7 linked regions of the Homo sapiens genome follow. The protein of the gene in region 1 purifies or fractionates together with the protein of each later gene. This does not show direct contact. Each region holds a gene or a part of one and is shown in the gene's direction. Other genes may lie near its edges. The genes, in order: LITAF, PUM1, PTPRD, PUM2, REEP5, HECW2 and R3HDM1.

Evidence for each region.
Region 2: the proteins of LITAF (region 1) and PUM1 purify together in Homo sapiens (affinity purification with mass spectrometry; 2 studies listed by BioGRID and IntAct, with this or other methods). This does not show direct contact.
Region 3: the proteins of LITAF (region 1) and PTPRD purify together in Homo sapiens (affinity purification with mass spectrometry; 2 studies listed by BioGRID and IntAct, with this or other methods). This does not show direct contact.
Region 4: the proteins of LITAF (region 1) and PUM2 purify together in Homo sapiens (affinity purification with mass spectrometry; 2 studies listed by BioGRID and IntAct, with this or other methods). This does not show direct contact.
Region 5: the proteins of LITAF (region 1) and REEP5 purify together in Homo sapiens (affinity purification with mass spectrometry; 2 studies listed by BioGRID and IntAct, with this or other methods). This does not show direct contact.
Region 6: the proteins of LITAF (region 1) and HECW2 purify together in Homo sapiens (affinity purification with mass spectrometry; 2 studies listed by BioGRID and IntAct, with this or other methods). This does not show direct contact.
Region 7: the proteins of LITAF (region 1) and R3HDM1 purify together in Homo sapiens (affinity purification with mass spectrometry; 2 studies listed by BioGRID and IntAct, with this or other methods). This does not show direct contact.

What each region holds. Positions count from the first base shown.
Region 1 is NC_000016.10:11,580,420-11,583,919, reverse strand, and holds part of LITAF (lipopolysaccharide-induced tumor necrosis factor-alpha factor), read left to right. Parts: intron 1-3,500.
Region 2 is NC_000001.11:31,055,718-31,059,217, reverse strand, and holds part of PUM1 (pumilio homolog 1), read left to right. Parts: coding exon 1-14; intron 15-3,500. UniProt on the Homo sapiens protein: Sequence-specific RNA-binding protein that acts as a post-transcriptional repressor by binding the 3'-UTR of mRNA targets.
Region 3 is NC_000009.12:10,603,003-10,606,502, reverse strand, and holds part of PTPRD (receptor-type tyrosine-protein phosphatase delta isoform 1 precursor), read left to right. Parts: intron 1-3,500.
Region 4 is NC_000002.12:20,281,345-20,284,844, reverse strand, and holds part of PUM2 (pumilio homolog 2), read left to right. Parts: intron 1-1,358; coding exon 1,359-1,502; intron 1,503-1,613; coding exon 1,614-1,898; intron 1,899-3,500. UniProt on the Homo sapiens protein: Sequence-specific RNA-binding protein that acts as a post-transcriptional repressor by binding the 3'-UTR of mRNA targets.
Region 5 is NC_000005.10:112,901,728-112,905,227, reverse strand, and holds part of REEP5 (receptor expression-enhancing protein 5), read left to right. Parts: intron 1-2,709; coding exon 2,710-2,848; intron 2,849-3,500. UniProt on the Homo sapiens protein: Plays an essential role in heart function and development by regulating the organization and function of the sarcoplasmic reticulum in cardiomyocytes.
Region 6 is NC_000002.12:196,219,555-196,223,054, reverse strand, and holds part of HECW2 (E3 ubiquitin-protein ligase HECW2), read left to right. Parts: intron 1-714; coding exon 715-844; intron 845-2,113; coding exon 2,114-2,260; intron 2,261-2,901; coding exon 2,902-3,016; intron 3,017-3,500. UniProt on the Homo sapiens protein: E3 ubiquitin-protein ligase that mediates ubiquitination of TP73. Acts to stabilize TP73 and enhance activation of transcription by TP73. Involved in the regulation of mitotic metaphase/anaphase transition.
Region 7 is NC_000002.12:135,719,984-135,723,483, forward strand, and holds part of R3HDM1 (R3H domain-containing protein 1), read left to right. Parts: intron 1-1,940; coding exon 1,941-2,023; intron 2,024-2,485; coding exon 2,486-2,570; intron 2,571-3,500.

The sequences.
Region 1 (3,500 bases):
GTGTAATTTCATAGAGCTTAAGGCATGGACACAAGAAAGGAACCATTCTGGAGGGTGTCTATGTGATGGTAATTCTCTGCTCACCTCGCAGTAGGTAGGAGTTTATATACCAGGATCCAAAGCTGGAGGCTTCAGAGAAAATAATGTTGGAGAATTTAAGCTATTTAGCTCATGGAGCCTTAGATTTAATTGACAGTGTGCCTCAGGTAAGTTTAAGAGCTTAATGATGTCTTGCCTTAAACTTGAATCCATGAGGTTATTCCTAGATGATGCACTGATAGTTTGAAATTTTTTATTAAAAAATATTAAAGTGTGGAAGATAAAGAAGAAAGGCATAATCTTATAGAACGAAACAACTACCACTGGCTGTCCTTATCGGGCGGCTTCTGTCTTTTGTCTTTGTGCCTGTTTTCTATGAAATTGTCATCAGCGTTCATACAATTTTGTATCCTAATGCAGTCTCAGTCTTATTAATGATCTCCTTGCACTGTTTGATGAAAAACTGTGATTCACGTGGAAACTAGGGATGTGGTTTCACCAGGAGTCCAGAGGAAAACTGCCCACTCTGATTGTGGGGGAGCAGCCCAACTCCCCGATGGAAGCATTTTCCATTCCACAAATCACTGTGATTTGTCATTACGCCATGCTTGAACCTGGCTTTAAGATTGTGGTAACTTTATCTTTGACTTGTGGGACATACCGCCCTGCAGAAACAGCCTGAACTCAGAAGATGGAATTGGCACACATTTCTCTGAAATATTTCACTCTGAGCTTCTGTACTTTTACTGAGGTCTACTGAAACTGGAATTTGTTTGGGATCAAATAACCAAAGGCCAATTTCTCGCTTCCTTTCCCAAAGAGCTGGAGGTCCGGGTTTCCCCTTTTGTCTACCTTCCTGCTTAACCATTTATGGCTTAAGACGCACCATTCACCTTGAACATTTTCAGGAATGATAGACAGGTTAAATTCCATGACAACAAAAACCGTATTGCAGAATTATTGTAGCTTAAAACCTGCCAGGTGACCCTCCTTAGTTTAAGAATTTTAAGCAATATTCAATTTAATAAGTGTACAATTTGGATAGTTCCTGAAAGTTGATTATAGTCAGGATCCACTGTGCTCCCATTATTGGAAATAACGTTTTTCTCCAGAGACCCTAAAAGACCAGACCTTTTTGACCCTCGCAGCTGGTTCTCTTTCTTGTTTACAAACTAGGCTATTTTCTTAGGGGACCTGACAATTTGCATGTGAGTGCCCTTCTTTTGCCTAAGGAATCCCTTTTTTTATTCTGGGGTCATTTCTGCGATATACATATTCATGGGCCTAGCTTAGTGTTTCTTTTCTGGGGGCTGGGAGATGGAGACCAGAGTAGAATTGAATATTTCTCCTTTTTCTTCCTGGAAGAATCGATCTTCGAGGATTAAGTTGGTAGTTAAAAAGCCGCTTTATCTTTCTGAAGGCCTTGCCCTTTTATGTGTTGATCTGATACCCAAATGTAGAAAACAGTTCTATACACAGCTTGAGGATATATTTTTAGAAGAGTTTACCACCCACATGTGGCTAAAGCTTTGTGGGGAGTTCTTTTTTTTTTTTTTTTTTTCCGTTGTGAGTGAAATAGATATTTCACTATATCTTGCTCTTGTTTTCAAACCCTTTAAAAAGCCATTGACCATTTTCTCTTTTATTTTTAGTTGACACATAATAATCATACACATTTATGGGATAAAGAGTGATATTTTCTTATATGTCTCCAGTGTGTAATTGATCAAAGAGTAATTGGCATGTTCATCACCTCAAACACTTATCATTTCTTTGTGTTGTGAGCATTCAGAATTCTCTCTTCTAGCTATTTGAAAATATACACTGAATAATTGTTAACCATATTCACCCTACAGTTCTACAGAACAGTAGAACTTATTCCTCCCATTGAACTGTAACTTTGTACCTATCAACCAACCTCTCTCTAGCCTCTCTTCCCCTCCCCTTTGTAACCTCCAGTAACCACAGTTCTTTTCTCTACTTCTGTGAGCTCAATTTTGTCGTCCTTCCTTTGTGGAAGCTGTGAAATACCTTTCGAGGGGAGTGCGGACTTGTGGTCAGGTGTAAATATGCATTCAGCTGGGCAGAGTTTGGGAGATTCCTTTAAAACCTGTTCTTTTGCTGAAATTCTAGGTATCTTTTTATTTTATTTTATTTTTTATTTTTCACCTCATCAGTTAGAAGTGTCAGAAACTCTCCTTTACCCCCCACTTAGTCTTTGGCATTTAACCAAAATATACTTTATTTACTTATATATTTTTTGAGATAGGGCCTTGTTCTGTTGGCCAGGCTGGAGTACAGTGGCGTGATCACAGCTCCATGCAGCCTCAACCTCCCTCTCGAGCTCAAGCCATCCTTCCACCTCAGCCACCACACTAATTTTAGTGGTTTTTTGTTGTAGAGACAGGGTTTCGCCATGTTACCCAGGCTGGTCTCAAACTCTTGGAGTGAAGTGATCCATCCATCTTGGCCTCTCAAAGTATTGCCATTACAGGCATGAGCCTCACCCCAAAGCACTCAAATTTTGTTTTTTTAAATTGAACTTGAGTGCTTTGGGGTAAGACCTGCCTATTCCATTTCACCTTATAGTTTTTCTTACTCTTGGCCTATGTAGGGGAGAGAGAAGACTTTCTTTCTGCCTTCTGAAGGTACCATAATTGAGCCTATGAAATAAACTGATGATAGATTAACGGATGAAAATACATACAAATTTATTCCATGCATAAATGTGGGAGTCCCACAGAAAGTGAAACTCAAAGCAAGGTCAGATAATTGAAGTTTATGTAGTGTGCCTGAGCTACGAAAAAGGAATAAGCGGCTGGGCGTGGTGGCTCATGCCTGTAATCCCAGCACTCTGGGAGGACAAGGCAGGAGGATCGCTTGAGCCCAGGAGATCAAGACCAGCCTGGGCAACATGGCAAAGCCCTGTCTCTACAGAAAATACAAAAATTAGTCTGGCATGGTGGCTCATGCCTGTGATCCCAGCCACTCTGGAGGCTGAGGCAAGAGGATCGCTTGAGCCTGGGAGGTCGAGGCTGCAGTGAGCCGAGATAGTGCCACCGCACTCCCGCCTGAGTGACAGACAAGACCCTGTCTCAAAATAAAAAAGAAAAAGGAATAGGGGCCTGGGGCTCCTGGAGGCAGGTGGTGATAGGTTATAGAAGGGTAAGGGGAGGAAATGTATGGTGAACAAAGGTTGCCTTGTTAATGCAGATAAAAAGCCTCTTGAATGATGAAAGTTGTCTCAGAGTAGCCTCAGAAGAGCAGGTGATGGCTTGTGACCAGGTGTCGACCTTCAGTCTCCTCTCCTAAGTTAAGATCTTCCAGCCAGGCACGGTGGCTCACGCCTGTAATACCAGCACTTTGGGAGGCCAAGGTGGGTGGATCATGAGGTCAGGAGTTCAAGAACAGCCTGGCCAACATGGTGAAACCCCGTCTCTACTAAAAATACAAAAATTAGC
Region 2 (3,500 bases), on another chromosome or scaffold:
ATGCAGAACATCAGGTAAAAAAAAGTTCACTATTTTAGCTTTGACATTCCTTTATAATCACTGTCCACTTAGGATATCTGCTTTCAATGAATGTCTTTAAAAACTTAAATTGCTGATTTCATTTGGTACAAACAGTTACTTGTTATAAAGGTTGATCATTGTAATACTGTTACTGGGTCATTTATCATTCTGGTGCTAAATAGTAAATAGCCAATTCATTCATTCATTCATTCATTTGAGACAGAGTCTTGCTCTGTCACCCAGGCTGGAGTGTAGTCGCCTGATCTCGGCTTGATCTCGGCTCACTGCAGCTGCTGCCTCCCAGGTTCAAGCAGTTCTCCTGCCTCAGCCTCCTGAGTAGCTGGGACTACAGGTGTGCACCACCACGCCTGGCTGATTATGTATTTTCAGTAGAAACAGGGTTTCACCATGTTGTCCAGGCTGGCCTCGAACTCCTGACCTCAAGTGATCTGCCCGCTTCGGCCTCCCAAAGTGCTGGGATTACAGTTGTGAGCCACCCACGCCCGGCCTATAGAATGCATTTTTTTTTTTTTTTAAGACGGAGTCTCACTCTTTTGCCCAGGCTGGAGTGCACTGGCGCGATCTCTGCTCACTGCAAGCTCCGCCTCCCAGGTTCATGCCATTCTCCTGCCTCAGCCTCCCGAGTAGCTGGGACTACAGGTGCCCGCACCATGCCTGGCTAATTTTTTGTATTTTTTTTGGTAGAGACGGGGTTTCACTGTGTTAGCCAGGATGGTCTCTATCTCCTGACCTCGTGATCCACCCATCTCGGCCTCCCAAAGTGCTGGGATTACAGGCGTGAGCCACTGCGCCCGGCCTACAACGCATTTTTAAGAACACTTTTTTTGGAACAAAGGATTCTTTTTTTTACTGTTGACATAAGAACTGCTAGGGTTGTTTATAGGATAGATACATATTTTTGAATCTTTTCTCTTGGGTGTGGGTGACTTGATTTTAAGATGTTGTAGTTGAAAGTAGGGGGAAGTTGATAACATCAGCTGCTCAAGTGAAATTTATTTGAAATGGGACTGATATATTGTGTCAGAGAGAAGTGGTTGTGGCTTTTAGGTTTTAACCACCTTTGTCCTCTTGTTATTGTTTAATTTTTAATTTTAACATGTTCAGTCTTATTAATCTAAAACCATAGTGGGAATCATAGCATATTTTACTGAGAAGAGAGGTTAGCCTTATCCATGTTTCCTGATTTCTTGATAATGACCAACCAAAAGATTAGACTGTTTTGATCAGGGTATTCTTTGAAATTGGGTATAGGTTGAATTTGGAAAGGTTCATTTTGTGTCACCCGTCAGTACTGATTAGCGAGAACTGACATTTTTCATTAGGCTTCTAGTGCTTCTGTTTTACTTCAGAAAAAATCAGGTACAAACATACCTGCAAGTCTGATTTTATTATACTTCCTCTGATCCCCCCAAAAGTGAACCATAGTTGTTTTTTTTTTTTTTTTTTTTTTTGAGATGGAGTCTCGCTCTGTCGCCCAGGCTGGAGTGCAGTGGCACAATCTCGGCTCACTGCAACCTCCCCCTCCCAGGTTTAAGCAATTCTCCTGCCTTACCTTCCCGAGTAGCTGGGATTACAGGCACCCACCTCCATACCTGGCTAATTTTTGTATTTTTAGCAGAGAGAGGGTTTCACCATGTTGGCCGGGCTGGTCTTGAACTCCTGACCTCATGTGATCCACCTGCCTCAGCCTCCCAAAGTGCTGGGATTACGGGTGTGAGCCACCATGCCCAGCCCTTTTTTTTTTTTCTTTTTCTTTTTTTTTTTTTTTTTGAGACAAGGTCTGGCTCTGTCATCCAGGCTGGAGTGTGGTGATATGATGATATTGGCTCACTGCAACCACGGTCTCCCTGGTTCAAGCGATCCTCCCACCTCAGTCTCCTGAGTAGCTGGGACTACAGGTTTGCAACACTACACCCGGCTACTTTTGTATTTTTTGTAGAGACGGGGTTTTGCCATGTTGGCCAGGCTCTACTTTGAGCCCAGGCTCACAGTGATCCACCTGCCTTGGACTCCCAGAGTGCTGGGATTGCAAGTGTGAGCTACTGCATCTGACCAGTTCTTTACTATAGTCGAAACAAAGACAGGCTGGGTGCAGTGGCTCATGCCTGTAATCCCAGCACTTTGGGAGGCCGAGGTGGGTGGATCACCTGAGGTAAGGAGTTTGAGACCAGCCTGACCAACATGGTGAAACCCTGTCTCTACTAAAAATGCAGAAATTAGCCAGGCGTGGTGGCGCATGCTTGTAATCCCAGCTACTTGGAAGGCTGAGGCAGGAGAGTCACTTGAACCTGGGACAGGGAGTTTGCAGTGAGCTGAGATCTTGCCATTGCACTCCAGCCTAGGCAATGGGTGAAACTCCATCTCAAAAAATAAAGTAAAAAATTAGCTGGGCGTGGGGGCACATGCCTGTGTTTCCAGCTGCTTGGGAGCCTGAGGTGGAAGGATTGCTTGAGCGTGGGTGGCAGAAGTTGCAGTGAACAGAGATCATGCCACTGCACTTCAGCCTGGGCAACAGAGTGGGACCCTGTCTCAAAAAAAAAAAAAAAAAAAAAAAAAAAAAAAAAAAGAAAAGAAAAGGAAGGTTTTCAGCTGTAAGGCTGAAAGAAGGCTCACCCCTGCAATCTCAACACTTTGGGAGGTCAAGGCAGGTGGATCACCTGAGGTCAGGAGTTCAAGACCAGCCTGGCCAACATGGTGAAACCCCGTCTCTACTAATAATACAAAAAAATTAGCCTGGCATGGTGGTGCACACCTGTAATCCCAGCTCCTCGGGAGGCTGAGGCAGGAGAATCGCTTGAACCCGGGAGGTGGAGGTTGCAGTGAGCAGAGATCACACCATTGCACTCCAGCCTGAGTGACAAGAGCGAAACTCTGTCTCCAAAAAAAGAAAAAAGAAAGATTTTCTCTTTCTTTGGGATGAAGATATGCACAGAATTTGGTGATTGAATTAGAAATCTTATATCCTGGAAAGATGAAGTAATGGAGGAAAAGTACAGAGTGCCTCTGGTTTGGGACACAGTGATTACATTTGATAGGACACCTGTTGAGTTTGAGGTAGAAGCAGAATATCTGGGTGTATACTGTAGGCAGCTCTACCTGTAGCAGGAAATCAAGGTAGGAGGTATTTGATTTGGGTGGCATCTGTGTAGTGGGGCAAAAACAAACCCTGTAATCTCTGTACTATTTGGCTAAATGTTATTCAAAAATCATAAACATTGGTTTTTTAAAATCTGTAATAAAGATCTATAAGATCTTTTGTTGTGTTTCCTAATGATAGACTGATGGGTGGAAGCTGAAAGGAGAGTCAAGGTGCCTGGCAGGTTCTTTGCTAGGTGAGCAAATCAAACTCTAGGTCAGTCCTTGGCAGAGCTCTAAGATCTGATTATTGCTGTGCAAGTTAAGAAGCGTTTATTGAAGGCTTACTCAGGCCTCTGTCTTACACTGAGCCCTATCATAAG
Region 3 (3,500 bases), on another chromosome or scaffold:
TGTTTCTAAAGTGGAACCAGTGTAGGCCACTTACGAAAAACCTGTATTTAGAATTTAGGAAAAATACTCACATAAGCTAGCATCCTTGGGATTTTTTCCCAATAATTGGCCTCAAATCTTTATAATCAAAGTTAGAAATTCTACTCAGTGGAAAAGGATGGAGGGGGTAGAGAATGGTAGAAGGAGTGACTCATTAATCTCACGCTAGAGACAGAATTATTTCATTTCTTATTCTTCACCCAAATGGTTATCAGGATGAAAGATAAATCTTTCACCTTGGGGTTAGGTGGTCATCAGATTTCTAGGGAAGTCTGGCTCACACTTTTATCTTGTCACTTTTCCGTTTTTTTGCTGTTGATAACAATATAACCATCTGGAACCATTGAGAAGGACAGTTTATTCATGAACCATAGTAATTCCTGTTTGATTTTGCTACAGAAATCAAGGATAGGACAATAATTCAGGTACCATATTCACATTATGCACTACTCTTAGAAGTTGCACCCTCTTCTATTTTCAAACTACTTGCAGAGGTTGCACCCTCTTCTATTTTCAAGCTTGTAAATGTTGTCAAGTCAGAATCACTAGTCAGGATTATGCAATATGCATAATACGGCAGCATAAATCATATAATATTATCTAGTCCCAAATATGTATTGAGTCTCCTATGTGTCAAGGAGTGCTGAGTAAAACAGCCATGTGCTAGCAATTTGAAACTACCCAATTGTGACCATCTTATGGTCTTATAAAATGTATCCACGTTATCATAAAATTTTTGATTCCATAGAGAAAAAGGAATCTCTTCCCTAAGGCATTTCTCCCTTTATATCACAGAAAAATTTCCAGATACGTATCTACACTTACCTTATTGTCCTTCTCCTTTGCTGTCATCCTGAGTCACAGCTATTGCTTTTAGAACCTAGGTGGAAGCTGTGTTGCTTATTAGGCAGTTGCAGTCTATGCTGTTTTCCACTGGAATTTCTTGGCACCCTTCATCATCTTCTCACTCCAGTGCTAATTCCTTATGTGTGTTCAACTCTCCAAAGTTCTAGAAAGGCAGTAAAGCATGATAAAAATACGCCGTACTATCCTAATATTGACACAATATAAAAACACAAATAAATCGCCAGACCACTGCAGCAGTTTACAGTCTATGCACCAGTCCCTTATATTTCCAAATTCATAGAATACAATAGCAGTTACAGTCAAGACTCATGTTATTTTCAGCTATAACCAAAGCATAATAGCAGAAGTGCTTTGGTTTTCTCAGGAAAGAGAATAGACAGAGAAAAATGAGGAAATTCTTCCTGTACCTTTTGAGGTGAGATATTCTTATAAGAGGACTTATAATGTGTACTTTGGATCAAATAACCAAAGAGGAAGGCAAAAGTGCAATTTAAATGTTTAGAAATGTAGTGGGATTGTTAGATACTGCTGAAGTTAATAAGTTACCCTAAGTTCACGTCTTGATTTCTCTTAAAAAAAATCATGGAAACATCTATGACTTAAGTTTGAAGAGTTTCCTTTTTTATTCCCCCTGAAAACCTTTATCAAAGTACTACTCAGCAGGAACTTTTGAAAAACAGTGCCAAGATGATATATTGTTTCACCTTCAAAAAACTTTTATACCTGTAAATTTTAAAGCTAAATTATGTGCATCACAAGTATAGAAAAAATATTTCCCATTTGTAATTTCCTATTTTATTATATAATACATTCAATTAGTTCTCAATTAACACTTATCTATGGTACCTGTTTCAATGGACCATGGCTTATAATTTTAGTGTGTAAGAATTCCAGTGGCAACTCCTCTGAATAGATGTATTTATTGTGTGTCATATGTGCTAGCCATTTGTTTTCTCCTAGGAAACATATGTGGTTAGCTCTGAAAGAATAGCTTAGCCTCATCATTTATACCTGTGTGGTTGCAAGCAACAAGGCTTTCTTGCAGTATAATTGTCTCAGGGATTAAGTCTAGTGCTTTATTCTCCCATTTTCCTGCCCCTCAGGAGGATATTCCTTCCTTTTTATTTTTATTTTTTTTAGGGGCTTGAAGTCTTCCTATTTTCCCATACACCTCTCCCACTTGGAAAACATGCCAGGATTTAATAAAACAAATTACACATTCACTAAGACACATTCATACTGGCTTTTTGAAGTATTACATCAGTGCATTCTGAGAGATATTCTGATGGTATTATAGATACAGATATAGATAGCTATTTTAAGAGAAAGGAATTTCAGGCCATATTCAAGAATGCTTTGGTGTGAATCAAATGCTGCTGAATACAGAGATGAAGAAGCTAGGTCAGAATATGGTCAGAATAGGTCAGAATATATGGTCCTCACCATGGCAGGCTTTTCTTTCCTCCATTACTCATCAGTTCTCTTCCTATTTCTGTTTCTATTGCCAAGTTCCCCTCTTCTGCCTATGTTTTTTAACTTCATAGGGAGCTATGGTGACACACAGGAATGACTATGTTGGCCTTATGAACAATTAAAGGGTGTGTTATTAACATTATTAAATAGATTATACTATTGTCTGTATTGTGCATTTCTCTTACAACTCATTCATCCTTCTCATCCATATAATAATCTGCAGCTCATATGTAGTTTATCACTTCTTGTAGTGGGATTAAAAGAAGTATGTAATTACACTTTTTTGTTTCTAAATCAGAGATGGTTTCAAGGTCACTATGATCTTTTTATTCTTCTTGGTTTCTTGAATTTTATCTCTTATATACTGCCTCATGAGTTCTTGAGAAATCTTCAGATAGAAGGTAATAATAATAGCCAACACTTATTGACTGCTTCATATCTGCCAGTCACTATTTTAAGTGCTTTCCATGCATTAACTTATTTATACCCATATCATTCCTGTGAAGTTGGTACAATCATTATCTTTGATTTATAAATGAGAAAACTAAAGCACATAGAGGTTAAGTTGCCTAAAGTTAATAACGTATTTTCCCAGATGTGCATATTAGTACGGAAGGTAAATGCTACAGTTATCTAGATTCTGTACATGAAAAGCAGAAAAAGTGTGAGATTGTGGATCTGCTTTTATAAGACAAATTCTTTCAAATGAAGTGAGCACAAGTTATCATAAGTAAATGATCACAAATGTGAATGCAGGAGGACAGATACTGTAAAAGTGCTGCCCAGGGGAACAAAGAAGCAGAGGGCAAATCATATCAAGGAAAACTAACTCCAGTGTATCTCCTCCCAAAGTTGAGAGTTAAGCGTGGCACAAATGCTTCTGAGTGTATTTTTTTCTTCCTTTGGGATTTCCAATCTGTCAGAAAGAGAACCTGCTGTGCTCTCTGCCTTTCCCTGGGGTGGCCCTTCAAGCTCGGGTCCCTTTTCCTGGGAAGATTAATTCATTCAGTTCCTACCACTCTAACCTCTACAGCCTCTTGGCGTCAGATTTTATGGTATATCAGCTCCTTAAACACCTTGTTGTACTTGATAATCCATGACCAAAAGCCACAATTTTTGAA
Region 4 (3,500 bases), on another chromosome or scaffold:
TGTGTGTCTTACAGGTGAAGTGTTTATCTGAGCACTGTTTATTATATTTGAGCTGAATTTAGCCTACTGTGTTTAAAGGCAATAAAATGTTCATGCTGCATTATCACTAATTTTACTGTAACTCTCACTTCTGCATAGTATTAACAAAATAAGACTTAAAAATTGATGTTGGAATGTATTTCAGTATAGTCTGTGTTTTTAAAAACTTCTTAAAGGACCAGACACAGTTGGGAGGCTGAGGCGGGAGGATCGCTGGCCCAGGAGTTAAAGACTAGGCTAGGCAACATAGTGAGGCCCTATTTCTGTAGAAAATAAAAATAAATTATCCGGACCTGGTGGCATGTACCTGTAGTCCCAGCCACTTAGGATGCTGAGGCGGGAGGATCATGTAAGCCCAGGAGTTTGAGGCAGCAGTGAGCTATGATTATGCCACTGTGCTCCAGCCTAGACAACAGAGCAAGACAGCACTCTTTAAGGGAAAAAAAAGTTGCCAATGCATGTTTTGCTGATAGTTGTAAGGTTATTGGGCCTCAGTTTTTTGTCGCTTTATAAGGCAGCCTTTCTAAACTGAGTTCCAGAAAAGAATAAAGCCTTATTACTGCTCTGAAGTATCCACAGTGTATATAGCTAACTTCTCTCCTGTGATTCCAGAGTGATGCTTGTTATATACCATCCTTAGGAGAATTAACAAAATACTTACTTAAATCATTTTCTGTGTTTTTGGTTCAACAGAGAATCTCCATTGAGAAAGGCTGCTAAGAAGTTAACTTTATTCTCCACTATTTGTGAAGATTACCTACCTTGTGCTTAAGGCTACAATAAAACTAAAGCCTGTGTGATTTTTAATTAAACTCTAGCTTGAGAATCTTCACAAATAGAATGTTTGGCTTAAGTTTTTAAAGAGATGATTACAAATGAAAATCTAACGGAATGCTGGTAATGAGGCACTTGATTTTGAACTTCAATGAAATTGCACAGTAAACATTTCGTACAGTGTTCTACCTCGCTACTCCCAGTTTTTTTAATCCTTCTTCTTCGAAGGGCTAAATGGTGATTTTTTTTTTCTAATATCAGCCCTTCCTTCATAGCCTGTAGTTTCTATATTAAGGAAAATACCTCTTCATTTTGTGGCCCCTGAGTAAAATTTAGAGAAAAAATGTTTAATGACAGTCTATTACTTTTTCATATATTTAGTAAGACCTTGTCAAATGTGTTGCTTTGCATATATTAACTAAGGATTTTATAGTAATGGTACAAATAGCTGTGTTGTCTAGTTGAAAAAATACAAATGCAGGGAAAAACAAATATGCATGTTTTTGTAATAAGTGCTTTCATTAGTAAACCTTTATTTTATTTAGGCTATCAAGTACTAGCTCCAACTGCCTATTATGATCAGACTGGTGCCTTAGTGGTTGGCCCTGGAGCAAGGACTGGCCTTGGAGCTCCAGTTCGGTTAATGGCTCCAACACCTGTTTTAATTAGTTCAGCAGCAGCACAAGCTGGTAAGTGTAACTGACATTTTTAGGATAATATTTTTCTGGTGTTGAGATACCATTTTTAAAATACAGAATTTTCTGGGTGGTTTAAAGAAGTATCTGAAATTTATTTTACAGCAGCAGCAGCAGCAGCTGGAGGAACTGCAAGTAGCCTTACAGGCAGCACAAATGGTCTGTTTCGGCCAATTGGCACTCAGCCACCACAGCAGCAGCAACAGCAGCCAAGCACTAATCTGCAATCTAATTCATTTTATGGAAGCAGTTCTTTGACTAATAGCTCCCAGAGTAGTTCTTTATTTTCTCATGGACCTGGTCAACCTGGAAGTACATCTCTTGGCTTTGGAAGTGGTAACTCTTTGGGTGCTGCTATAGGCTCAGCCCTCAGTGGATTTGGTTCATCAGGTAAGTTTGTTTTTACGATGAGTGTACTCTGCTAAGTGGAAGAGGTATATGAGTGTGTTTAACATTAAAATAAGCAATAATAGCATGTAGGATAGGAAGGACAGGAATAAAGTATTGGACTACTGGTTTAATTTGTAGGAAAAAAAAATCCTGCAAATCTTTTCAACACTCACCAATGTTTAACTCACTATAGGCAGCCTGTTCTTTACTCATATATAATACATTTCCTTTTTCCCTGGCTCTAGGAATTGATTACTGTAATTTTTGTTTTAGTAGGGTTTATTTGGGTCAATATATTATTCACTAATTATTAGCTCATCTTCATTCACTACATAATGTTTGTGGAGGCAAATATTTTGCCGTCTTAAATTTTTGGTATTTTAAAGCAGTTATCTTTGTGTCCTTATTAGATGGTTTATTCTTATTAAATGCTGGTAGTTTATTACAGTTTTTAAATTTGGCCTAATATAAAAAATACATATGTGTATGTATAAATACTGAAATGTTCTACACAGAATCCCCTAAGAAGCTACCAGTATGGTTATCTTTTAGATTAAATAAGTTAGCCTTTGTCACTAAAAATTCACTTAAAAGGGTATCTATTCATGTATCTTAGCTTTATATAACACTTAACAAATCAAAATTTTAAATAGCTTCACTAAATAATTGACCCACTCAAACTGGTTCCTGGATCCTGTGGTAGAGGAAGAACTAAGTGAAATCAGAAGAGGCCCACGTTGACTTCTTGTTGATACACTTGGTGTTTTCTGTGAGGTTTCCACAGTACTCAGGAAACATTAGGGAAAAAACAGCTGACCCAGTTCTATCGGTGCAGCTGGCAGCTTTTACTTCATGAGGATAGGACTATTTGGACCTCAAGAGATTTTCTGTTTCTATAACATAACTTGCTACAGTCCTTAATATCTGTTTCTGATCTCTTTTCTTACCACATCAAATTATATTCTTTTCTGGTGTGGAAAATGGCAGAACTAACACATGCCAGGCATTATTAACAATGCTTGCCAGTTTTCTAAGGGAGTGTCTTCTGAACTTTTATCATTCATATATACAGGAAGGATGGTCTAGAACAGCCACAAACTTTTAGATGGCAGAATCTTTTTTCATTTATTGTAATGAAATACAATAAGTGGATGTCATATTGGACTGACACAAAATTATCTGAAGACTGCTCATAAGAATTTCTGAGGGAAAATCCAGTGAACATGGGGATTGTTAAATCTTTTCAATTTTGTACTTGAGTTTTTTCATTGCTTTTGGAGTTGTGTATCTCTTTGTCCACCTCACGCACTCCCATAGGACTCATTCCTTGTTTCTAACACAATTGGGACATTTTCTCCAAAGAATCCTAAATATTCTGAGGAAAACTGGAAGAACAAGTAACATAAAAAACAAACTTGTGGAAATAGTTTTTAAATTATAAATTGTAGGCCCTAAATAATTCAGAAAAAAGAGAGCATTGATTAAACCCCATGTTTCCTTTCTCACGTAGTATGTCACTGATCGTCTGGTTCAGATTTCTAGGCCCCTACTCAATTCTTTCAAATTTCCATTTGTTTCTTAGTTAAGGCTGTTTTCCCCCTT
Region 5 (3,500 bases), on another chromosome or scaffold:
TCACCATGACTACATGGGGCACTTCACTTTTTTGAACCTCACGTTCCTGAGTGAGCTAGACCATCTCTTCCCTTTTTTCTTGTTTTGGGTAGTTTGTGATTGTTATGACACATAAAGACATTTTTTAAATTGAACATTGTGCTATTTTAAATTAAAACAATTAAATGCTTCAATAATATGAGAAGATCTATTAAAAAATCTCTTTAGCTTAATAGACTCATTGGCCTTTTCCTGGCTTCTTTCATATGCCTTGGTTTTCTGCAAAGTTGTGATCAGTGTATGTATTCAATTTGGAGTTCTTTTATTTCTACTTTTCAATGTTACTATATAGTGTTCTAGTATATTAACATGGGGACTTTAGAATTCATATTGTAGATATGAATTAAAAAAGAATTTTTTTTTCCTAGAAGAGCTGAACTGTTAGGCTTCCTGTTTTTCAATCTGTGGAACTTGACTAACATTTAAAAAATAATGAAATAGAATGGAATTTAAAATATCAGAATGGTTTCAGGAAATATCTATTTAAGTTTATATTTTTATGTGAAGATGTCTGTTTACTGGATCATGATGTAAAATGTATGCTTACCGAGGGTTGTGGCCAAAAGAATTTAAAAGCCACTGGATTAACAATGACAGTCCCATCACATTTTGAGGTTTTTACGTCATATTCTAGAAAAGACTGTTTAATTCCCAGGTGTGTCCTGAGAGTTGCTTCTTTTGGAAGTACATAGTTGTGAGCTATTGCGTTCACAAAACTAAGACCTTGAGTGAAATGTAATTACGTATCTCCTCTGCCCAGAATGAATGTACAGGAAACAAATTTTTATTATACTAATAATTAAATAAATCCAATTAAATATGGATAAGCCATACTATACCAAATGAAACACAGCGGGAGAAGAAATCTTACACATAAAGGATATACTGTGTTCTTTGGTTAACATGCTTGTCTACACTTTTCCTTTGGCCTTCTATTACATTCGCCAGCTTCTATCTGAAGGAAGCTAAAAAAATACAGACTTTGTGCATACATTACAAGCCATTTTTTAATAATCAGCTCTCTTAAATTCATTTTATATGATTCTTGTACTTTGAAATATTTGGGGCTGGGTGTGGGAGCCACCAGACTGCACTTTGGGAGGCCAAGGCAGGAGGATTGCTTGAGGCCAGGAGTTCGAGACCAGCCTGGGCAACACAGTGAGACCTTGTCTCTACTAAAAATTTAGCAAGTAGCTAGGTGTGGTGGTGTGTACCTGTAGTACCAGCTACTTGGGAGGCTGAAGTGAAGGGAATTACATAAGCCCAGAAGTTTGAGGTTGCAGTGAGCTATTATTGTGCAACTGCACTCCAGCCTGTGCAGAGACCCTGTCTCAAAAAAATAAAAATTTTGCCTAGTCTTGAAGTTCAAAGCAACATTCACCTTATTACTTGTTCCTCTCTCTGTCTTCCTCATTAGTAATCATCTCATTGAGCTACAATTTTTCCCCTTTTGGTTATTTTCTAAAACTCACACACATAGCTGCTTCTAATTAACTGTACAAGGGCTTTCTTAGTGAGTGACTGAGCATGATTTAGCAGCCTGACTGTCTCTTTGGGGAGCTGATGTTATGGAGTAGCCAATGTATTTGCTTTTTGAAAATTTTTTATTTCAATAGGTTTTTGGGTAACAGGTGGCGTTTGGTTACATGGATAAGTTTTTAGTGGCAATTTCTGAGATTTCGGTGCACCCATCAACTGAGCAGGGTACACTGTACCCAATGTGTAGTCTTTTATCCCTCACTACCCCCAGCCCTTTCCCCAAAGTCCCCATAGTCCATTGTATCTTATGCCTTTGCATCCTCATAGCTTAGCTCCCTGTCAATGTATTTTCAGTAGTTAACCTGTTTCATAGGCTAAACAAGATTCAGAGTTCTTTTATTTTACTGTTTCAGTCCAGCTCAGTTACGATAAATATCTAGATCTGTTAGGATAAGAAATTGTGGAGCTTCAGGTTTAGAATAATGAGATTCCTAGGACTGAAGGAAATTTCTGTGATTTAGAAAATTATTTTAAATGTATTTCCATCCATTTGCAGAATGAATTTTGTTTAAGCAATAGTTAGGGTTGGGAAAGTCCTGTTATTAACTGAGGAGAGGAGGAAAGTCCATAGCCTGTGGATCAGTTAAAGACATTCTGAACTAAATAGACACCATGAGGTTTGTTTTCACCCGTTTACTATAAAATATGCTGTGGATTTTGGGCAGTACCTAACCTATGTTCCAAATGTTGCTTTATGGGAAATTCTTATTCACCCATGATATATCTCAATTATTAAAAGTACATAAGAACCTGGTTATCACGAGAGAATTCTTCCTGATATATCCCTCGTGGCAGGACCCAGCTTGGGAGTGGAAATTGCTCTAGCTCCCAGTCACTAGTGGTATATTCTAGGACTTGTGGGGAGGCTTTGGCAGGGTGGAGATCCAGGGCAGTAACAGCTGGTGCTGGTTTCTCTGGTGACCAGGAGACTAGAAACAAGTGGTTATAATGGCTTGTCCCGATATCCACATTGCTTCCAGTCTTTAAGCTGTACTCTTGCATCTAGTGACACAGTGCCTACATGTGCCTAAGTTTCTCAGTGGTATCAGAGGACAGGTTATGAAAGTGTATTTGAAAATCTTTCATTGATATCTTACCAAATGATATACTTTCTTTTGTACTGCCTTTCAGAATTAAAGCTATAGAGAGTCCCAACAAAGAAGATGATACCCAGTGGCTGACCTACTGGGTAGTGTATGGTGTGTTCAGCATTGCTGAATTCTTCTCTGATATCTTCCTGTCATGGTTCCCCTTCTACTACATGCTGAAGGTATGTTGGTCTTGCTACCACTAAAACTCCATCTCAGTACCTGTATAGAAGAAGTAGGAATAAATGCTTGAATGTTGTGCATCTGTGGCTCTGTCTCAGATTATAAACAAGAAGACAGGCCTGGGCAACAGAGCGAGACTCTGTCTCAAAAAAAACAAAAACAAAAAAATGCTCAAGCAAGCCACTTGCCTCAGCCTCCCGAGTAGCTGGGACCATAGGCGCACACCACTGCACCTGGCTACTCTTTTAAACAATTTTATCTAAAGAAATTTAGATATAGGAAATTAAATATAGGAAGCTCCATCACTCCAACCACCATCATAAATGGTAGTATCTTGAGTTTTAGTTCTGGTTAATTATGGATATATAATTCTTTTTGTCTTTGGTCTTAGCCTTTTTTTTTTTTTTTCTTTTTTTGAGATGGAGTCTTGCTCCGTCGCCCAGGCTAGAGTGCAGTGGCATGATCTTGGCTCACTGCAACCTCCACCCCCCAGGTTCAAGCAATTCTCCTGCCTCAGCCTCCTGAGTAGCAGGGATTACAGGCGCCCACCACCATGCTTGGCTAATTTTTGTATTTTTAGTAGAGACAGGGTTGGTTTTTTTAAAAATCTATTTATTTGTACTTCTTCTGGGAGATTTCTCAATCTGACCT
Region 6 (3,500 bases), on another chromosome or scaffold:
GGGTTAAGGGGAGTGAAATTTCAAAACAGCTATAGCAAATCAATGACTACCACTGTACAACTGGGCCATGGAACAGTAACTTACCTCATGTCGATTCTTTCTCTACAATTAAAAAAAGTGGGGGAAAAATACAGATTGACGGCAGGTTCTGTGGCTTACTATTTTCAGAATAAGAACCATGAAGAAAAAGGGAATGTATGTGAAGATGAATCATGTCTTTAATAAAAAATAAAATAAAATAAATATTAAAATAAAAATCATGTCTTTCAATTAAAAAAAGTTAAAATATAGAAATATATAAATAATTTCAAATTAAGATAACAGTATTTTAAGGTAGTATAATATGGCCAGAAAGAATAATGGATCCAAGTTGTCAACCCGAGTGCCAGTTCCTGATCTGGCATTGATGATGGATGACTGCGCAGATGGCACTCATTCTTTGCACCTCCAGTTCTGTGTCTATAAAGGAAGACGCAGGCTGAATGATTCCTGTGGCATATTATATATTTAGGACTTTCTAATTTTATAACAAATTTCTGAATTATTTCACTGGTTTGGTTTAATTACTGGACTTGGACTAAGAACATTCCAGAAATCACTGCCTATGTAGTGGCTCTTATTCTTCTCTTTAATTCTTAGTTTCTTTCCTTATGACTCTGGGTTTTTGCTAATAGCCATGCCTACATATTTGTTTCTGTCTGTTTGTCATCTTAGTCTATGTGACCTGAGTGACCTAGAATACCTTGATGAAGAGTTCCATCAGAGCCTGCAGTGGATGAAAGACAATGATATCCATGACATCCTAGACCTCACGTTCACTGTGAACGAAGAAGTATTTGGGCAGGTGTGTGTATCTGCACACCTGGCGCCTAAGTGTGGTAACTGAAGGCTATTGATGAGTGAAGAATTAACTCCATGGCTAAGATCAGATGCTTATTTATTCGTGGTTTATTGGGTGATTTAAACTCAGGATCACACACAGTTATAATAACCGCAGTTATAAAGATTAGAATTAATGTCAGCTGCAGATTAAGATGCTGTAAATTACAGATGGTGATAACTGTTTATGTTGTAAGCAATCTTCTTTTTATTTCCAACTAAAATATCCCCCAAAATATGAGAATTTACCTTATATAGAATGCAGTTTTTTAAAGTCCACACTACAGAATTTTTTAATTGGCATTTATAGAATGGTGGCTGGGCACGGTGGCTCATGCCTGTAATCCCAGCACTTTGGGAGGCCAAGGCAGGAGGATCAGTTGAGCCTAGAAGTTCAGGACCAGCCTAGGCAACATGGTGAAACCCTATCTCTACAAAAAATACAAAAATTAGCCAGGTGTGGTGGCACATACCTGTAGTCCCAGCTACTCAGGAGGCCAAGGTGGGAGGGTCACCTGAGCTGGAGAGGTTGAGGCTGCAGTGAGCCTGGATCATGCCACTGCACTCTAGCCTGGGGGACGAGAGTGAGACCCTGTCTCAAAAAAGAAAAGAAAAATAAAGAGAACCAAAATTGATTTTTTTGAAGCTAAGGGAACATAAACAATGTTTTGGGGAAGACTTAAGAACAGAATATATTAATTTTTTTTTCAAAATTGGTGGAAGAGTAGGGAAAACGTTTCTTCCAGAAATTATATACCAGTTTATAATTAATATTCTTATTTAGGCATTAATCTTTAGCTGCTTTTCTGCATTCCATGTGTTTTGAAAAAGTTCTCAATTTAACATTCACTTGAGTGTAATTCTGCTTTAAAGTAAATCTTTACGCTAGATATAGTCAATTCTGAGAAATTTGTGAAAATGGGTTTTGTCAAACATTCAAATAGTAGCAGGCTAGTATCTGAAGCCGATTCATCGGCATTTTAAAACTTAACCTGTAGTAACAGCAATACATATATATACTTTAATCACCAAAGCTTTCAAGCACCCCCTCAATGCCTATTTTTTCCTGAGTGTGTGTGCTCCGTGAGTGCCTGGGGCCTCACTGCCAGCTTGTGGGATGTGCCTAGGGCAGGGCTGGGACAGGTAGCTGGCTGATTTCAGCTCAATGCTAGTAATGTTGTTATAACATTAAGAGTATTGCTTTGTAGTCATTCTTTTTATTTTGTAATCTCAGATAACTGAACGAGAATTAAAGCCAGGGGGTGCCAATATCCCAGTTACAGAGAAGAACAAGAAGGAGTACATCGAGAGGATGGTGAAGTGGAGGATTGAGAGGGGTGTTGTACAGCAAACAGAGAGCTTAGTGCGTGGCTTCTATGAGGTAAAGACAATCAGCAGTAGGAGGAGTTTGCAGTCTGATATCAATGATGCCACAGTCCATCTTATTGTACTTTACATGTGTAGACTATTTCTGCTGTATTTACTGTTGCTCTTTCCATGCGAAAAGTTCAGTATTTTTTCCCTTATGTTTCAAGAGCACCAAAAGAAGCTTAACTCACTGTTACGAGAGATCACTGAAATAAATGTTATGGACTGCATTCAAGTAGCATTTGTTGATTTAATGACCACTAGTAACATTTAAGCCATGCATCTTATGCTTAGATATGGGTAATCAAATCTCATGCTTGCTATGTGAAATAATTATATCTGAGATCAGAATGAGTTGGCATGTATTGTATGTGACTTTTTCTGTAGAAACACTAGATAGTTTCCTAAAGGTGGACGGGACCTAGATTAATCAGCAATCAATTATAAAACAAAAATTCTGTCAAGGCAAATCTCATCAACCTTATACTAAAGAATGCCTTATATTTGTAGGGAGCTTTACAGGTTTTCAAGTGCCAACACAAGGTACACACATATTATTCCTGAAACTCCATGTGTCCCCTTTTCTAAGGCTTAATTATAGCTGATATTTCTCCAGGCTCCTAAGCCATGCCTTGTACTCTTTTTATTCCACAGGTGGTGGATGCCAGGCTGGTATCTGTTTTTGATGCAAGAGAACTGGAATTGGTCATCGCAGGCACAGCTGAAATAGACCTAAGTGATTGGAGAAACAACACAGAATATAGAGGAGGTGAAATTTGATTTATAGATGGCTAGATTTTAAATTTCAAATTAAAGGAAGGCATGGTTCAGCTTGCCAACTGAATATAGGACAGGCAACAGCACTTGGACTCTAATCATAGGTCTGATGCAGGCTCCCTTGAGACCTTGGGCAAGGTACATTCTCTTCTTTTCCTAATTACCTCATCTGTCAGATGGGAGAAGGACTGTTTACACACCGTCAAAGGATGTCATAACTCTTAATTGTTGGTGAGGAAATGTGACCGTAAGAACACTAATTAATTACTTTATCGTGTTGTCAGTGAAGCACCAAGGAGCTAACATCCAGCTGGTCAAACTCCACCTATTCCATTTTGTTTCTAAAACTTAGAAAAGCACACCCTTTGAGCTTCCCAATCAGCACAGTTTTTCCACTGTTCACTACGCTCCTTATCAGTTGTAATTCATAGTCAGAACACTTGAATGGAATAAGACACAGTTCCCAAAATACAACA
Region 7 (3,500 bases), on another chromosome or scaffold:
TACAGGCATGTGCCATACGCCTGGCTAATTTTTTGTGTTTTTAGGAGAGACGGGGTTTCACCATGTTGGCCAGGCTGATCTCGAACTCTGACCTCATGATCCGCCCGTCTCGGCCTCCCAAAGTGCTGGAATTACAGGCGTGAGCCACCGCGCCCGGCCTTCACAACTATTTTTTATACACCTTCACACTTCACTTTGCATCTCTGATCTCAGTGCTAAACCCCCATGTCATATCTGCCCTTCCATCTATAGGTTGGGAAAGAGTATGTCATGCATATGTCCTGCCAGGGAGCTGCCCAGGCATCTTCACTGTGTTCACCCGGAAGGAGCCTTGTGGAATGGCAAGAAGTCCACACCTTGCTGCTTTCTGTTATGAAGCTCTCAGGAGAAGGGGTGTACAGTTTCCTGAGGATGCTTTCCTAGCACCTACTGATAACCCTCCTCCAAACACAAAATGTACTAAATTTGAGAACTTAAAATAAATGAAAATGTAACACAAAAACCTTATTATCCAAGACAAAGTTTTTGCAGTCAGCATTTATTAAGCCTTTGCCGTGTGATGACTTCAGGCTTTCCTGAGTGATAGAAAGCAATTGGAAGATCTCCATCCTCATTAACCCACATTTACTGATTTAGGAAGGGAATACTTACGAATAATGACACTTAAGAACTACACAACTTTTTCTGAACAGGTTCAAATTATAAATGCAAATTTCACTTAAAGATTAAGAAGAGCAGACTTAAGACCTAGGATGTACAACTACCCATTGGTTAAAACTATTAAAGTGTGTTTGAGTATATGTAAATGTGTACATGCATATATTATATGCATAAATTTTTAGCAATTAATAGTGAATTGGGGAGATAAAAACTTAATGTTTATCCAGAGTTTCTTCCTTCCTCTGAAAGGTAAGATTTTAATCATAATAGAGTGATATGGATTTCAGCACCTCAAATGATTGGCATGTGTATTGTAGTTATTTTGGTGTATTTCATACGGGATGTTAGGATTTAGTGTCATAGTTTTCTTAGATTCTTCCTCTTCCATATCTTCAAAGTATCCAGAGAAGTTTCTCTCCATCCTGTCTCTATTCATGTAGTTCCTACCATGCACCCTCCTTCCTAACCACTGTTATTAGTCCTTAATCTTTTCAGAATTTTGCCTGGGCTCTTAAAAGGATATGTGGAAATTTTTAATTCTTGTTTAAAATGTCATTTAGCCAAGCATGGTGGCTTGTACCTGTAATCCCAGCAACTCATGAGGTGGAAGGATTGCTGGAGGCCAGGAGTTTGAGACCAGCCTGGTCAACATAGTGAGACTCTATCTCTACTAAAATAAAATTAGCCAGGCATGGTAGTTTGTGCTTGTAGTCCCAGCTACTTGTGAGGCTGAGGCAGGAAGATCACTTGAACCCAGGAGTTCAAGGCTGCAGTGAGCTATGATTGCACCACTGCACTCCAGCCTGGGTTGTCAACAGAGCAGTACCCTGTCTCCAAAAGAAAAATGTCAGTTATCTATACTTTTTTTATGCCACCATACTTGTTTCCCCTGTTCATCTTATTTTGAACAATTAGAAAACTCTGGCAAGTACTTTTTGTTTTATTTTATTTTTTATTTTTTTGAGACAGTCTCTCACTCCGTCACCCAGTCTGGAATATAGTGGCGCCATCTCAGCTCACTGCAACCTCTACCTCCCAAGTTCAAGCAGTTCTCATGCCTCAGCCTCCTGAGTAGCTAGAATTACAGGCGCCCACCACCAGGCCTGGCTAATTTTTATATTTTTATTAGAGATGGGGTTTCACCATGTTGGCCAGGCTGGTCTCGAACTCCTGGCCTTAAGTAATCCGCCTGCCTCAGCCTCCCAAATTGCTAGGATTACAGGCATGAACCACCGTGCCCGGCCTCTGGCAATAAAATAAAATATTTTATTGACTTTCAGGAGATTCCAGGTATCCATTACTTGGCCAGCCACTGCAGTACAATCCTCCTGCTGTTCTGCACGGACACATTCCAAACCAACAGGTAGGAAAGACAACTAACCTCCTAGGCTTTGTTGCAGAACATCATAGCTCCCTCAGAGTGTAAGGGGCAACCCTGAGCCCACCTGTTGGCACTGCCCAAGAAGAGCTCTGTGCCTCAGCCAGTTGGTTTACACAGATTATCACTGGCTCCATCAGGAGCAGAGCAAAGGAGAAGATGGTGTGCTGCTTGGCAGAGCAGTAATTCTCTAGTGCCACCCAAAGACAAGGCAGTGGCTAGGGATTGGGGCACTCTTGCTAATGAAGGACCGTCAGCAAGTGATCGGTCATAATGAAGGACAGGAATGCCACTGCCACAGGCAGAATCCAGAAGGCCTGGGACTGATTTTCTTCTGCCAGAGTGCAAAACCCAAACTAAAGGTGTTTTGGTGTTAATTTGTTAAACATCCAAAGTGTGTTTTTCAGCATTATTAACGTTGTTTCTCAACTATTTGTGGGTTTTCAGGGTCAGCCTGGCAGCAGGCATGGAAACCGAGGAAGGAGACAAGCTAAAAAAGCTGCATCCACAGACCTTGGAGCAGGAGAAACAGGTATGTCTCTGAGGGGCAACTAGATGTGGGTCTGCAAACTGGTGACAGTCTAAAAATACACCACAGCACAGAAATGGGTTTTCCTCTTCCTAGAATCCTGCAAAAAGTCATAATTTTTGCCATCTCTGATTTAGGGTTCTTGGATATGTTCCTATGACCTTGTGTCATTTGAGATGTGAGAGTATATATGGTAAGATGCAGGTAGGTTTAGGAGGGACAGAGGGGCCACAGGGAAATGTGTGAGAGGAACAAGTAGAGTGAAACTCTTAGCCTCTTAGTTCTTTGAGAAAGGGTTTGTCCTTACATCCATGTGGGAGAAAGTCTGAGTGAACAAATATGTTGCCTCTCTGTGGTAAAGTACCTTCAAGTTTATATTTTAACTTTCTACTCAGCAGCCTTGTGGTGTGGTTAGGGCAAGTGCTTTTATTTTATTTTACAATGGAAATGTGAAGTTCAGAAAAATGTTTGAGATCACCTAATTTAGAGAAGCCACTGTACAATGCCTCTTTTTATTTGTGCAACTACCAGTAAAGACTATGACATCAGTAGCTTAATTTTATTTTTTTTATTTATTTATTTATTTTTGAGATGGAGTTTCATTCTTGTTGCCCATGCTGGAGTGCAGTGGTGTAGTCTCAGCTCACTGCAACCTCCACCTCCCAGGTTCAAGCAGTTCTCCTGCCTCAGCCTCCCGAGTAGCTGGGATTACAGTCGCCCACCAGCACGCCCAGCTAATTTTTTGTGTTTTTAGTAGAGACGGGGTTTCACCATGTTGGTCAGGCTGGTCTCGAACTCCAGACCTCAGGTGATCCACCCACCTCAGCCTCCCAAAGTACTAGGATTACAGGTGCGCCCGGCTCAGTAGCTTTAACACTATTAGCCCTCTATTCCTTGCCTATCGGGTAAGTAGGAATGATTTAAAAGATGGAT